2 linked regions of the Homo sapiens genome follow. The protein of the gene in region 1 purifies or fractionates together with the protein of each later gene. This does not show direct contact. Each region holds a gene or a part of one and is shown on either strand. Other genes may lie near its edges. The genes, in order: SERINC1 and NDUFV3.

Region 1 (8,367 bases):
TATAACACAACCAGATTCTGAAGACTTATATGAAAAATAATGTAAAACATTCTATTAAGAATTTTTATATTAATGTCATTGAAATATTTTGGATATAGAGTTCAATTAAATGCATCTTTAAAATTAATTTCATCCGTTTCTTTTAATACATCTACAAAAAATTTTAAATTACAAATGTGATTCACATTTCATTTCTATTGGAAGGTGCTGATTTAGACGTTGCCTTAATAACATGTTTAATAAGAATTCAAAAATCTGATGAGTGCCAAATCGAACTAGTTGATTCCTTTCTGTAGCACAAATAAATAACGTTTTGGGTGAATGAATGTGAAGAATTTCTTCAGTATATAATTTCATTATTTTATCAAGGTCAATACATCTGCCCTTGAAAAGTGAAATGTTTTAGAAATGTCATTTACACTTTTTCAAGAAGTCACTCCCTTCTCAATGATTATAAAATAGTACATTAAATATTAGACACATATTTGAATTTGCTATCCACTTTATTATTTACACAGTGAATATTTCCTTTTTTCCTGAATTTATGTATGTTCTGCCTGAAATAAACTTATTTTTGTAGACATCTATTTCACTGGTATAAACATATCTGCTTGTTATGGAATTATAGGCTTAGATTTCAGCAAAATAAGAAAATCTGTGTGGAAAGAATATTGTTCATTTGCTGTTTTAACATTAAGACCATAATTGAAGAGAGTTTTTGTACATTTGACACTGTATCTTAGTTTTGAATTATTTTCCAAAACTATCAATGTGTGTCTTAACAGATAAAAGCATGTCTTTAATCAGAATATGGTCTCTTCCAATTCTAAGTTTATACTGACCCCTATGGGTTACTGTGTCCTAATCTATTTTTGGCTTATCCTTTCAGAATATCTGTGAAATACTTAAACATGTTTACATTTAAGATATAACTAATTTAGGATAAAAGCCATAAAATACTTTTTATATTTTTGCTCTCCTTGGATTATATAACAAACTATGCACAAATTTTATTCATCCTTTAACTACTGTGGGGGGGCCAAGATGTTTCAGTCCTCATTATATTTAGTGTTGATGTACTAAGGACAAGAGAACTAAGCAGTATAATTTCTAATTTCCAGAAAAATATGACCTGATTATTTTCCTTAAAATCTGTTCCACTCTCACAATATTTCAGAGATATAGATCATTTATTAGGATAAAAAATAAAGTTTATACAGAGATTTGTGTAAAGGCAGGAAGGATTATGGGACCAAAGATGAGTCTAATTTTAGTCAACCTTGATGGAGACACACTGATTCTAGGTTACACTGGGAATTTTTAATGTGATATACATGATTCTAAACCATATCCTTATGGATTGATTATTTATTTTTACTTGTTTTTTTTGAGACAGAGTCTCACTCTGTCACCCAGGCTGGAGTGCAGTGGCGTGATCTCAGCTCACTGCAACCTCTGCCTCCCAGGTTCGAGCAATTCTCCTGCCTCGGCCTCTTGAGTAGCTGGGACTACAGACGCATGCCACCACACCGAGCTAATTTTTGTATTTTTAGTAGAGACAGGGTTTCACCATGTTGGCCAGGCTGCTCTCAAACTCCTGACCTCAGGTGATCCACCCACCTTAGGCTCCCAAAGTGCTGGGATTACAGGCGTGAGCCACCACACCCGGCCTATTTTTACTTTTATAGAGATGAAGTCTCACTATGTTGCCTAGGTTGGTCTCTAACTCCTGTGATCAAGCTATCCTCCTGCCTCAGTCTCTGGAGTGTTGGAAATAAGATGTGAGTCACTGCACCCAGCATAACCTTATGGATTTCAACAGGAATTACAAGAGGTGGCGAAGGGTTATTGACATTTATTTTCCTTTATGCTGAAGATGTGGTTTCTGAAAATAAAATTATTATTTTTAGTATTCTCTCAAAAATTCAATGGGCCAGGCGTTTTGGTACACGCCTGTAATCCCAGCTCCTCAGGAGGCTGAGGTTGCAGTGAGCTGAGATCAGGCCACTGCACTCCAGGCAGCGGTTGCAGGAGAATCGCTGGAATTTGGGAGGTGGAGGTTGCAGTGAGCCGAGATCAGGCCACTGAACTCCAGCCTGGGCAATAGAGCAAGCCTACGTCTCAAAACAATAACAAGAACAACAACAAACCAAAATGACTGATAACTGACAAATCTATATTTGAGAGTGACTTACATAAACCTAAATTTTGTACCTAAATCATTCTGAAATTACATTGGTTAATATTGATTTTTGTGAATCCATTATTGAAATTTTTACTATGGCTAGGATAAGCTTCGTAATCCTGCTTTACATTTTTCTCAGGGTACAATAGTCACAACTATAGTTTATCTGGGAGAATTCATTTACCTATATGTAAGAATGAACCTGGACTATCTTCTAAGGAAAACCTTAAGCCTGTCTATAGTACTCCACAGATCTCCCAGCCCATTTCTGTGCATGTCTATTCTGACAAGTATTTTGGTCTTTCTCCTGAATTTCCCTAAGAGACTATTAATTTTACATACCATTTATTTGAATGTTAAAGTCTATGTCTTGTCCTTAATTGACAACACAGAGCATTCATGCTCTGATTCTTGACAACAAACATAACCTTCAGCTCTCTGATGCCACATATGGATCAAAAGTTTAATTATGAGAAAAGATATTCTAGGAGGGCTGCCAGAAGGCTATGAAGTCCATCCTTCCCTCCATCAGTATTTCTTAAACTATATTTCATGGAACACTTACAGTGCATATTAATACATTTCATAAGAAAAAAAGATTTTTTAAGGTCAAGTTTAGAAAACATTAGGAGTGAAGGAATTGAACATGCTAATATGCAACATCAGTCACAAGAGAAGAATGTAACAGGCAGTACCATCCAAGCTTATCTGAAAACTTCTTCCAGCATGGCTACTTAGTAACATTCTCAAAAAAATCAATATTCCAATTTTTTTGTTTTTTGGCATACTAGCCCTTAATCAAGTCAGAGAACTGAGTTATTAGATAGCATGGCTTTTTTGTTTGTTTGTTTGTTTTGAGACAGAGTTTTGCTCTTATCACCTAGGCCGGAGTGCAGTGGCACGATCCCAGCTCACTGCAACCTCTGCCTCCTGGGTTCAAGCAATTCTCCAGCCTCAGCCTCCTGAGTAGCTGGGATTACAGAGGTGTGCCACCATGCCCTGCTAATTTTTGTATTTTTAGTAGAGACAGGTTTTCGCCATGTTGGCCAGGCTGGTCTGGAACTCCTGACCTCAGGTGATCTGCCCGCCTCAGCCACCTAAAGTGCTAAGATAATGGGTGTGAGCCACCATGCTCAGCTAGATAGAATGTTTTTTACTAACGTACTTACTTAGACTAATTTGAATTTTGGCATTGTAAGTTATACGTGTGCTACAGGAAGTCACCTGGAGAAATGGGTGCTCCTACTAATAGCTGGTATATATTGAGAAAACTATGCTTTGAGCTGTGTTTGGGTTGAAATTTGAAAAAGTCATCATTTCAATTTTCTTTCATAGTTGGCAAAGAGAAAAATGAGACTGGTGTCGAAGACTCTTCTAACGAATAAAATAGTCTATATATACTGTCGTGTCCAATTAATGTTGTATATATAATAACTTAAGTGAGCAAATTCCACTCCACATAGCCTACAGGTTAAATAAAAGTAAATTTTTTTTAATGTATTTCAAGGCCAAGTGTTACATTCCAGAAAGATTAATATGACTTTTGTATTTAACTCTGAATATCTCAGGTGAAAAAACTCTATTGAATAGTGCAAGAACTTATGAATATCTCAGAAACCCTCTTAAATGGAGCAAGAGACAAGAATCTGTGCAAATTTAAATTTTAAGAGACCCATTCTCCATTTGGCTAATAAACATATTCTTTACGACCTTAAAGTTACTCACATATAAGTGTTTTTTGTCTCCTTCTCTGGTACTTTGAAAAGTTTAAGGACTTGAGATACTAGGATTCTCTTCTCCCATAAATAACGTATTAAGTTTAGCATAATTAAAAATATTGTTAGGTTTGTAATTTCCATTTCCACTATTCTTTTTTTTTGAGACGGAGTCTCGCTCTGCAGCCCAGGCTGGAGTGCAGTGGCCCAATCTCGGCTCACTGCAACCTCTGCCTCCCGGGTTCAAGCAGTTCTCCTGCCTCGCCTCCCGAGTAGCTGGGATTACATGCGCGTGCCACCATGCCCGGCTAATTTTTTGTATTTTTAGTAGAGATGGGGTTTCACCATGCTGGCCAGGCTGGTCTTGAACTCCTGGCCTTGTGACCCGCCTGCCTCAGCCTCCCAAAGTTCTGGGATTACAAGCATTTCCACAATTCTTTAAACCTTATGGATGCTCTATTATAATACTTTGCTTTAAGAGTGGTCTACAAAACCACAGATAAGGCAAAGAAGAATAAAGCAAGATTGTCCCTTAGTGGTTACAATAACTAGGAGTAGGGATTCTGACATTCTTCCAGATTCTTAGGTGTTTACCCCACCTCGACCCATGCAATTTTTGTAGATTTTACAACACTTTCTTATTATTAGTTATGGGAATGACTATTTCAAGTTTGAGCTGTTTCCCAGAATATTTTCAAGAACAAATAACTCTAAAAAAATAACTGGAACTTTTATAGGAATGCATTCCCTGCAGATGTGCATCATCACCTAATATGCAAGGGTTCCACATGCCTCAACAGCTCATGACATTCGAAATCAATGTTTGAGTTTGATAATGTCTTATCTAACTAATTAAAAATAATTTTAACGTGCAAATTTCTTGTAACATCTTAATAGCATAAGAAATTAAAATATAAGTCAATAGCAAACAGAAATGATACAGAGAAACTGAAGCACACAGATGAATATAAATATCCCAATAAAACTTGTTCCGGGCAGCGGGCTGCAGGAATACGTTGCAAACGCAAGAGCAAAACAGGATGCAAACGTGGGAAAAATGGGAAATAAGTGGAGTTAGGACGGACAAAGACTGAGAAAGAGGAAGCAATCCCCTAAAAAGCAGAGAGGTTCCTCAGATGAAGGAGGGCAAAACGTCAACCACCACCTCAGCTCTGTTCTCTACTAATGCCCAAATGCAAGTGCATGGTAGGTAAAGGTGGGTTTTGCTCACACCGTTTTCTTAATTTGGCAAACTACGGTCAGATCCACATTAGCCGTTAAGTTTCCAGCCAGCAGTCCTTGAGAAATTCTCCAGGAAAGAAGACAGCCGTGTCGTCTAGTGACGCGCATGCGCAGTCTCAGCGCTGCGCGCTCCGTGTTTTATCCTACCCAGGCCTGGAAGGAAGTGACGCGAGGCTGAGGGGCGGGTTGCGCTGTGCGTCCGGAAGTGTCTCGCAGATAGTAAATAATCTCGGAAAGGCGAGAAAGAAGCTGTCTCCATCTTGTCTGTATCCGCTGCTCTTGTGACGTTGTGGAGATGGGGAGCGTCCTGGGGCTGTGCTCCATGGCGAGCTGGGTAAGGTGCTTTTTGCGGCCTCTGGGGTGCTAGTGTGAGAGACCAAAGAGAAGGCGATCCGAGCCGGGGCTGGGTGAGCCCGGCGGGAATGTGGTGCCCCACCCAACAGGGAGTGCCCTCTCTGTCCCCGTTTTCTTCCCGTCTCCTCTCGTCACTCAGACTCAGCTTCAGAGCTTTGGGTCTTGCGAAGAACTGATCACTGGCCGTAAGGTTTAGTGGCGATGGGAAGATGACTCAAATTGAGGAAGAGAACTAGAATAGGGCCCCTCCCCCACCCCTGCTTCGTGAACGCTGTCTCCCATTCTTTGAGGTCCCTTTTCGTGGTTTTGTTTGTATCTGCGCAGGCCATCTCTACAAAGGTCTTTGCCCCTTTCCTTCGGTGGGGTACCCACTCTGTTGTCATCTCTTTCCTGGCGACCTCAGACTGCCGCACTGTCGTTCCTGGATTCATGTCGCCCTCTTTGTTCAGTGGCGCAGATTATGATTAAAAAGTGCCTGTCGTCATTTGGAACCGCCTGGCAGTAATGCTAATGTAGTAATATTGTTTTTGAAACAAATAGTCATAGCTCTGCCGTAACTGTTTGAAGTGTCAATTTCAGATTTCAACTTAAAATTGAAATTTCAGATGACACACGCATGCCTTGTGCCTAATGACAATTTTGTCTTTAGGCACAAAACATGCGTGTGTCATCTGAAATTTCATGCTTAATTAGCTGTACATTGCATTTTCATTAAAGAGTTGTTAGAGTAAAACTATTTTCAGTATAGTGGCAAGACTTTGGTCCGTGTGGCACAAATTTCAGTTTATTTAAGATAATCTCTGCCCCCTCCAAAATAGTAGGCAAAACATTGGCAGTGCAGTTAATAAAGATATTTGTAATTTTAGGCGAGGTATTTGGACTCAAATCACTTTTCTTTAGTCTGGAATTTGTTAATTCTGTTTCTAACAATTGCTTTTCTGACTTCCCAAATGATTCCGTTATATATACTCTTAAAGGTTTTGATATGTCTTGAACTAAAAATGTTGAATTTTAATCAAATAATAATGTGGGGATTGTTACTCCAGCCAGTCTGTTCTTTTGATTATATGGTATTTCTTCTTGCACGGAAGCCTGGAATATTTTATCTCAAGATATTAGAGAGTTTAATTATTGACTTTTATACAAAAGAGGCATATTTAGTGTGATAAACAGTTTTGAAAACTGATAATTGATTATCATATAAGATTGTTTTCATCGGTTTTTTATTGGAAGATGTTATGCAATTCAATTTGTAATGTCGTATCTTGTCCAGTTATGAAGTGGGCGTGCTGTAGTTTTTTGTATATAATAGAGATTTAAAAGATGAGATACATGTTTTCCCTTTTACAAAATAGATCGCCACCTTTATTGATTAGAAGAATGTCCGTGATAAAATTGACCCTGCCTTTTAGTTTCTGTGTTAATAGCGAAGTACATTAAAAAGGTAGAAGCAGTGAGGCAGTTTTTTAGAGATGGGGGTCTAAGTGTATTGGCCGGGCTGAAGTGCAGGGGATGGTCGTAGTGAACTGCAGCCTGGAACTGCTGGGCTTAAGTGTAACCTCAGCCTCCCAGGTAGCTGGTACTACAGGCAGGTGCTACCGTGCTCAGTTTGGAATTTATTTTATTGTTTGCAGTTTCAGTAATCTTTTTCCCTTTTCTTCCTTGTGCCTCTGTCTCTATTCATTAATTGTTTGATTTTACTGCAGGCCAATAGTCATTGAAGGGGACCATCTCTTCCACATTCTTAACAGTTAATGTGCTCATTTACTTAGAGGTTTTGATGAAATTAAAATTTATTCAGCTTTTCAAAAGTAACACTCAGAGCCTGCTGCAGTGGCTCACGCCTGTAATCCCAGCACTTGGGAGGATGAGGTGGATGGATCACTTGATGTCAGGAGTGGGAGACCGCCTGGTCAATATGGTGAAACCCCGTCTCTACTAAAAATACAAAAAAAAATAGCTGGGTATGGTGGCACATGCCTGTAGTCCCAGCTACTCGGGAGGCTGAGGCAGGAGAATTGCTTGAACTGGGAGACGGAGGTTGCAGTGAGCTGAGATCATGCCACTGCACTCCAGCCTGGGCAACAGAGCAAGACTCCATCTCAGAAAACAAAACAAAACAAAACAAAAAAACAAAAATCAGCCGGATGTGGTGGCGCACACCTGTAATCCCACTCGGGTGGCTGAGGCAGGAGAATCTCTTAAGCCCAGGAGGCGGAGGCTGCAGTGAGCCAAGATGGCGCCACTGCACTCCAGCCTGGGCAACAGAGTGAGACTCTGTGTCAAAAAAAAAAAAAACAAAAACAAAAAACAGAACAAAAAAAAAGTAACATTCAAATCATTAAATTAGATCAGGTAAGCCAGAATTAAAAACAAACCAACCTCATTCTTAATTAGTACAAGTTTCTGCAGGCTTAATCAAATTTAGTAAAAGTTTTTTCCTTATTTATAAAATAATTGTAGAAAATGTCTGAACTATAAAGAGACAAATTATGTGTAATACCACTGAGCAGAAATTGGAGTGTTAAATTGTTCACTTTTTGTTTGCTGCTAAGAGACCTAGAATTAGATTGATCATAATCCTTGGTTCATGGCAGTATAATTTTTTATTCATGCATGGTTGTCTCTTTTTTTGATTGTTAATTACTTTAAACATTATAAACATCATACCAACTAATCCTATAACTATAACATTACCAATCACTAATACCTACTTACATGCTTTTCCCCATCCCAGTCTCAACATTGGTATTAGTGAGTAGACAGAATTGATTTTTTTTTTGAATGGGTGAGCCTTATATACAATACCTATCAAGATATTTAGTTTAGTTAAGTCGTTAAGAACTAGTGATTACTGAGTGCGTATTTTTT
Region 2 (8,258 bases), on another chromosome or scaffold:
ATGTGATGCACAGGAGCCCCCCACATTGCCCCCAAAGGTGTGACTTAAAGTTATCTATCACAAGGGATGGGAGGTTACTTGGCCAACCCAGAAACCCTAAATAGGTAAAATAGCTCATTGAGTGCCTGTGGCCAGCGGGGAGCAACTTCGTCCCTGCACCGCACAAAACTTCACCTCTTCCTACTCCGTCCCTGCACCGCACGAAACTTCACCTCTTCCTACTCCGTCCCTGCACCGCACGAAACTTCACCTCTTCCTACTCCGTCCCTGCACCGCACGAAACTTCACCTCTTCCTACTCCGTCCCTGTACTGCACGAAACTTCACCTCTTCCTACTCCGTCCCTGTACTGCACGAAACTTCACCTCTTCCTACTTCGTCCCTGTACTGCAAGAAACTTCACCTCTTCCGAATCTCACCAATGAAAATGTCCTCAAGTTTATATAAAATATCTAACAGAGGCAAACAAAACAATTCCCTTCCTTTTCTGATGGTAAAATACTGCAATACAATTTGTTTGCAATGCAGTAGTTAAAATTAGTAACATTCCTGTTCCTTTTTTTTGATTGAGTTTCACTCCTGTTGCCCAGGCTGGAGTACAATGGCACGATCTTGCTCACTGCAACCTCCGCCTCCCAGGTTCAAATGATTCTCCTGCCTCAGCTTCCTGAGTAGCTGGGATTACAGGTACCCACTAGCATGCCTGGCTGATTTTTGTATTTTTAGTAGAGATGGGGTTTCACTATGTTGGCCAGGCCGGTCTCAACTCCTGACCTCAGGTGCTCCACCCGCCTCGCCCTCCCAAAGCGCTGGGATTACAGGAATTATCCACTGCACCTGGCCAAAACTCCTGTTTCTAATGATCAAAAACCAGGGCTGTAGGATTAGAAGTCACTATTACTGGCTGGGTGCAGTGGCTCACGCCTATAATGCCAGCATTTTGGGAGGCTGAGGCAGGTAGATCATGAGGTCAGGAGTTTAAGACCAGCCTGGCCAAGATGGTGAAACCCCATCTCTACTAAAAATACAAAAAAAATTAGCCAGGCATGGTGGCGTGAGCCTGTAGTACCAGCTACTCAAGAGGCTAAGTAAGGCAGGAGAATCACTTGAACCCAGGAGGCGGAGGTTGCAGTGAGTTTAGATTGTGCCGCTGGACTCCAGCCTGGGAAACAGAGACTCCATCTCAAAAAAAATAAAAGAAGTCACTATTACATTATTGATACTCAGCTGATAATCAGTTTAATGCGAAATTGACTAGGCTGAGCACAGTAGAATCACACCGCTCTAAAGCACTTAAAATTCTCTAATTATATGGATTTGCCCAGTGATTCATAACCTTAGAGTTTAAGAAAAATTCCTTGCACATAGTAGATATTCCAAAATATATGTTGGATAATCAGTGTTACTGTTGCTAATTCACCACTCACTGTAAAAAGTGTGAAAGTGGCCGGGCGCAGTGGCTCACGCCTGTAATCCCAGCACTTTGGGAGGCGGAGGTGGGCAGACCATCTGAGGTCAGGAGTTCGAGACCAGCCTGGCCAACATGGTGAAACCCTGTCTCTACTAAAAATACAAAAGTTAGCTGGACCTGGTGGTGAGTACCTGTAATCCCACCTACTTGGGAGGCTGAGGTGGGAGAATCACTTGAACCCAGGAGGCGGAAGTTGCAGTGAGCCGAGAATGTGCCACTGCACTCCAGCCTGGGTGACAGAGTGAGACCCTGTCTCAAAAAAAAAAAAAAAAAAAAAAAGGTAAAAGTGAAACCGATTATGCACAGCGGGCCTTGTGACTCTTGAGTGGATTTTATTTTTGCACTCCAGGATGCAGTGAAGACGGTGGAAGGTTCATCTTCACACCGAGGGCCCTCAGTGTCGAGGTGACTCCCGGCCTGAGGAGGGCTGAGGCATCCTGAATTTTGAGAGTTCGAGGTTGAGGTCTAAGAAGGTGTACGTGCTGTAGTCATGATGCTGCAGGTTCTTGTAGGTAGTGTTGTCAAACGGCTCAGCAGGCACTGGGGCTGGCTCTGCGGAGGAAACACGATGCCCATGAGACCAACACAAGGACAGCTCTTTATGAATGACTCGGCTCACACACAGGCGCTTACCTACCAAGCATTCTTCATCATCCCTATCTGTGAACAGCTCTTTATGAATGACTTGGCTCACATACAGGCGCTTACCTACCAAGCATTCTTCATCAACCCTATCTGTGAACAGCTCTTTATGAATGACTCGGCTCACACACAGGTGCTTACCTACCAAGCATTCTTCATCAACCCTATCTGTGAACAGCTCTTTATGAATGACTCGGCTCACACACAGGCGCTTACCTACCAAGCATTCTTCATCAACCTATCTGTGAACAGTTCTTTATGAATGACTCGGCTCACACACAGGTGCTTACCTACCAAGCGTTCTTCATCAACCCTATCTGTGAGGAACAAATTGTCTAATTAAAAAAGAAAAGCCTACAAAAGCCACAGTAAAGAAAAAGAAAGATATTACTTGGAAGTTTATTCTAAAACATACAGCCTTCCAATTTAAGAAATGGAATAGTTATTACAATGCGTTTTTTTTTTTGAGATGGAGTCTCACTCTGTTGTCTAGGCTGGAGTGCAGCGGTGCGATCTCAGCTCACTGCAAACCTCCACCTCCCAGCTTCAAGTGATTCTCCTGCCTCAGTCTCCCAAGTAGCTGGGATTACAGGCGTCTGCCACCACGCCTGGCTAATTTTTGTATTTTTAGTAGAGACGGGGTTTCACCATGTTGGCCAGGGTGGTTTCGATTTCCTGAGCTCAAGTGATCTGCCCGCCTCGACCTCCCAAAGTGCTGGGATTACAGGCGTGAGCCACCATGCCAGGCCATACAACGTGTCTTAACATCTTAGTTTGTATACTTCTAGGCTTCTCAAAAGTTTGAAAATGCCTAGAACAATTATAGCAGGACTTTCAGGTAACTTAGAGATGCATGATAAAATCTACCTCTATTAGAAATCTGGGCTGGGCATGGTGGCTTACGCCCATAATCCCAGCACTTTGGGAGGCCGAGGTGGGAGGATTGCTTGAGCTCAGGAGTTCTAGATCATTCTGGGCAAAATAGTGAGACTCTGTCTCTACAAAGAATAAAAAATTAGCAGGGGCCAGTAGCAGTGGCTCACACCTGTAATCCTAGCACTTTGAGAGGCTGAGGCGGGCAGATTGCTTGAGGCCAGGAGTTTGAGAGCAGCCTGGCCAACAAGGTGAAACCCTGTCTCCACTAAAGTTACAAAAGTTAGCAGGTGTGGTGGCATACTCCTGTAATCCCAGCTATGTCAGGAGGCTGAGGCACAAGAATTGCTTGAACCCAGGAGGCAGAGATTGCAATGACCTGAGACTGCATCACTGCACTCCAGCCTGGTGACAAAGTTAGACTCTGTCTCAAAAAAAAAAAAAAAAAAAAATTAGTAGGGCATGGTGGCACACCTGTAGTCTCCAGCTACTCAGGAGGCTGAGGTGGGAGGATTGCTTGAGACTGGGAGGTGGAGGTTGCAGTGAGCTGAGATCACATCACTGCACTCCAGCCTGTGGGACAGAGCACGTCTGTCAAATAAAAAATTTTTTTTGAAAAGCTTAAACTAAAGGAGCCTTCTGAATCTCTGATACAAGAAAATTAGATAAATTCTAATAACAACAACACAGCATTTAAACATTTGGTAATTCGAAACTACAAGTAGGGGTTGAGGCAAAAGAAGTACTGGTCTCCTGCAGCAGGACACACAATATAACATAATGGCAAAATCAAAACCAGCACGGGAACACAGGCTGATATTTGGGTTAAGATTTGTACTGACTCAATTTCTGTAAATCAGGTCATTAGGTCTGTCTTAACTTCCATTCATGCTCCACAAAAAAATAACCTAAATACATTTATTTTCTCACTATTTCAATTAATATCAAAAGCTCTGTTTTTCATTTTTAAGTTACGTTAAGCAAAAACGATGTCTCATTTAAAGAGCTGGCATCCTTCCAATCTCCACAAGGTGAGTATCTTCGGTGTGGTGTAGGGACACCTTCAAAGCAGAACGTACTATTTTAGTTACTATAGGGAGGGTGATAACTGACCAAGACGTGGGTTACAAAACTCTGATCTAAAACCACTCTACCTGGAAGGCCAGTACTGGGGCACGGACTGCCTAGTGAGACCGCGGCCCCATACAGACACGGCTCTGCAAGGTGGGCTCTGCGCATGCGCACAGAAGATAGTTAAGAAACAACACACCCGTGAAATATTAGAACTTTCTCTTCAGAAAGGTTTGCAGTCTGAAAACTCCCAATTCTGTTTTTATCCTGCGAGTTGTGTTATTCGTCTCCATTTTCGAGCAGGAGGAGTGAAAGCAGCAGCATCAGGAAATGCAGTTCCTAAGGGCTGGGAAGTCTGGCAAGCACCGGCACTTGGCGTACTGATCAAAGAGCAGACGGAGAGGGGGGAAAACACATAGATCCTGTCGCACAACGAACCAAGAACAAGAAGGCGTCATGTAAGGCACATAAGGCAAGGGGCGGCGGTACAGAGGATGGAGAGCAGACACAGGACGGAGCCGCGCTTGTTAGGGATCATGCACTTTAGAGAAGTCTTCAAGAAGAGCCATGGATTCTAAAACGGAAGCTTGCCTTTTCATGTTTGCCACGACCCACCTAAAGCGCATTGCATCTTATCAAGTTTCGTGCTCAAGAAAATGGTAACATAGCTGGGCGCAGTGGCTCACGCCTGAAATCCCAGCACTTTGGGAGGCAGAGGCAGGTGGATCACCCGCGGTCAGGAGTTCGAGACCAACCTGACCAACATGGCAAAACGCTGTCTCTACTAAAAATACAATAATTAGCCAGGCGTGGTGGCAGGCACCTGTAGTGGCACCTACTCAGGAGGCTGAGGCAGGAGAATCGTTTGTACGTGGGAGGTGGAGCCGGCAGTGAGCCAAGATTGCGCCACTGTACTGCAGCCTGGGTGACAGAGTGAGATTCCATCTCCAAAAAAAAAAAAAAAAATGGTAACATCATAGGAATAAATACTGTTGCCCTTTAAAAGCCTCCACACGCTAGGCACGGTGGCTCATGCCTGTAATCCCAGCACTTTGGGAGGCCGAGGCAGGTGGATCACCTAAGGTCAGGAGTTCGAGACCAGCCTGGCCTACATGGTAAAACCCTGTCTCTACTAAAAATACAAAAATTAGCCGGGGGTGGTGCCACACGCCTGTAATCCCAGCTACTTTGGAGGCTGAGGCTGGAGAATCACTTGAACCCAGGAGGCGGAGGTTACAGTGAGCCAAGATTGCGCCATTGTACTCCAGCCTGGGCAACAAGAGCAAAACCCATGTCAAAAACAAACAAACAAACAAACAAACAAAAAACCCTTCATAAAATGTCTTCTAGAAGAGTAAAGCAGCCCACATGTGTTTTCAGTTAACCAGAGAAGGAAACGCTGTCCAGGGGAAAGGATGCGTATGCAGCGGCTGACCTGTACAACACTTACTGCTTTAATTCCTGAACTATGAATCTGCCCTGTGCACAGGATGCTGAAAGCAATCATCTAGTTTACCCAAAGACTCTCACGCCAAGCGACTAGCTACTGCTCTTCACCTATGCAAGTTAAACCGGAGGCTCCCCTTTTCACTTAGCGAGATGCCCCACAAGGTCATCAATGAACACTTGGACACCTTCAAAAGTCAGTGGTGACAATGTTAAGCTGCCAGTTTTCAAAAATTATACCGGTTAAGAAATAGTGAAGAGTGCCAAGGACATACTCTTTAAGATGAAGGTTGGGGGCCGGGCACGGTGGCTCAGGCCTGTAATCCCAGCACTTTGGGAGGCCGAGGCAGGCTGATCATGAGGTCAGGAGATTGAGACCATCCTGGCCAACATGGTGAAACCCCGTCTCTACTAAAAATACAAAAATTAGCTGGACATGGTGGTGGGGGACTGTAATCCCAGCTACTCAGGAGGCTGAGGCAGGAGAATGGCTTGAACCTGGGAGGCAGAGGTTGCAGTGAGCCAAGATTGCACCATTACACTCCAGCCTGGAGATGGAGCAAGACTCTGTCTCAAAAAAAAAAAAAGATGAAGGTTAAGCAGGGTGGGGTTGCTCATGCCTGTAATCCCAGCACTTTGGGAGGCCGAGGCGGGTGAATTGCCTGAGGTCAGGAGTTCGAGGCCAGCCTGGCCAACACGGTGAAACCCCATCTCTACTAAAAATACAAAAAAAATTAGCCAGGTGTGGTGGCCTGCGCCTGTAATCTCAGCTACTTGGGAGGCTGAGGCAGGGGAAGTGCTTGAGATGGAAGTTGTAGTGAGCAGAGATCGCGCCACTGCACTCTACCTGGGCAACAGAGCAAGACACCATCTCAAAAAAAAAAAAAAAAAAGAACGTTAAATATTTTAGGGATTCTAAATATAAAGATGTGGATTGTCCATAATTAAGACATACTTTTCTGCCTGGCTGAGACAGCGTTACAGGCCATATTTCTAGTACAGAATTTGACTAATTGTAACACTGCTCTACAAGCATATGTAAATTAGTTCTTTTGCCTCACTACCCTAAGGGACAGGGTGCACTTGGGAGCGCGAGTCAAGGTATACCCTGTGTGCCGCCTCGGTCGTCCCCTGGCGCGGCTGCATCTTCCATGGCCTCGCCCTCGGCCTCAAGCTTCAGCGCTGCTGTCTTTTCATGGAAACCGTGGTTATTCTCAACAGGAACTGTCTCCAAATTGCTTGGTGGTATCTGATCTTCCACGATTGCCTGTCCACCCTTCAGGTGGCCTTCTATTCCCTGCGTCCCTGAGGTTTCCTTTCTGGGCAGGGGAGGGGCCGCCTTGCGCTGGGGCTCTGGCACGGGTTTTTCCAGATGCCCCTCTGCCGCCCCAGGAGGACTGGCTTGCAGCTGCCCCTCTGCTCTGGCCTCTTCTGCCAACACAGCAGGCGCTGGGCTGCCCTTCGGTGGCGCAGACAACCCTGATTTTGTGTGGACAGGTAAGGGTCCTTTAACTTCAAATGGCTTTTGGCTTTCTTTATCTATTTCATTTAATCTAAATGTTTTCTGCAATTGTTTTTCCTTTAAACTTTGCTTCAAAAACTCTTCATCTACTTGAGATCTGGGCATTGTGGTTTTTGGTCTCGCATTTTCCCTGCCTTCTGATGGCTTAGCAGGGGACCCTTTCTTCTTTGGCTGGTGGGGCTTCTCTGGATCAGTAATGTCCACATGCGGCTTCTGCAGCAAGGTTTTCTCTTTTGCTGATACTGTAACTCGGGGGGCTCTGTTTTCAAAGGAATGAGAGGCCTCTGGTTTTCGAAGCCCCCCTCTGCCTTTGCTCACCACTCGAGGAGTGACCTCTGAAACGTCAGCCTCATCATCAGATTCAGAATCAGAGGAGCTGGAAGAGGATGAAGACGAAGGCGACGTCACTTTCCGACCCACCTGACGAGCTTCTGAATCAGAGCCCTGTTTTCTGAATGGAGACAGAACTTTCTGTGGAAACTCTACCAAAGTCTTTCTTGACAAAAATTTCGGAACCCCTTCATCTGTGAATAGCACGCTGCCACTGGGACTGGGACTAGCTACCTTCCTGCCCTTATTCACAGCTGGCGGGTAAGAACTGGGTGAAGATAAGTTTTTAGACAATTCAGCTGCTGTCTGGGTGGCTAGGAGCTTGCCCCTCTCCTTTGGTTCCACTACATCTGGGAAACGGCATAAAGAGGAATGTTATTTAACAAAACAACTTAAAACTCAGTCAAAATTACAGACATTTCATGACACATTACTTATTACTGACAGTATCTTCAATGCAATCATCCTAAGACAGGTCCCATAGAAACCCACCAAGCAACCAACTGAGGATGGAAAATGTTCAGAAAATCATCTGCTTTAGTACTGAACATGAACAAACTTTTTTCCTTGACATTATTCCCTAAACAATACAACAACTATTTACATGGCATTTACATTGTATGAGGTATTATAAGTAATCTAGAGATGATTTAAAGTATACAGGAGGATGTACTTAGATGATATGCAAATACTGCATCACTGTATATCAGAGACTTGAGCATCTGCACATTTTGGAATCCTGGTGGGAGGGGTGGCCTAGAACCAATTCCCCTCAGATACTGAAGGATGACTGTATAATAAAACACAAAACTACCGACCTAAGACTAGCTGTGTAGGCCTATCTCACAGCCTGAGATGGGGACTTTCAGAGACTGTTTCTCTTCTCTCAGAGACCATAACAAAC

Evidence for each region.
Region 2: the proteins of SERINC1 (region 1) and NDUFV3 purify together in Homo sapiens (affinity purification with mass spectrometry; 2 studies listed by BioGRID and IntAct, with this or other methods). This does not show direct contact.

What each region holds. Positions count from the first base shown.
Region 1 is NC_000006.12:122,468,808-122,477,174, reverse strand, and holds the start of SERINC1 (serine incorporator 1), read left to right. Parts: upstream 1-5,367; 5' UTR 5,368-5,437; coding exon 5,438-5,476; intron 5,477-8,367.
Region 2 is NC_000021.9:42,902,628-42,910,885, reverse strand, and holds part of NDUFV3 (NADH dehydrogenase [ubiquinone] flavoprotein 3, mitochondrial isoform a precursor), read right to left. Parts: intron 7,705-8,258; coding exon 6,610-7,704; intron 4,047-6,609; coding exon of another isoform or gene 3,984-4,046; intron 2,023-3,983; coding exon 1,865-2,022; 3' UTR 1-1,864. UniProt on the Homo sapiens protein: Accessory subunit of the mitochondrial membrane respiratory chain NADH dehydrogenase (Complex I), that is believed not to be involved in catalysis. Complex I functions in the transfer of electrons from NADH to the respiratory chain.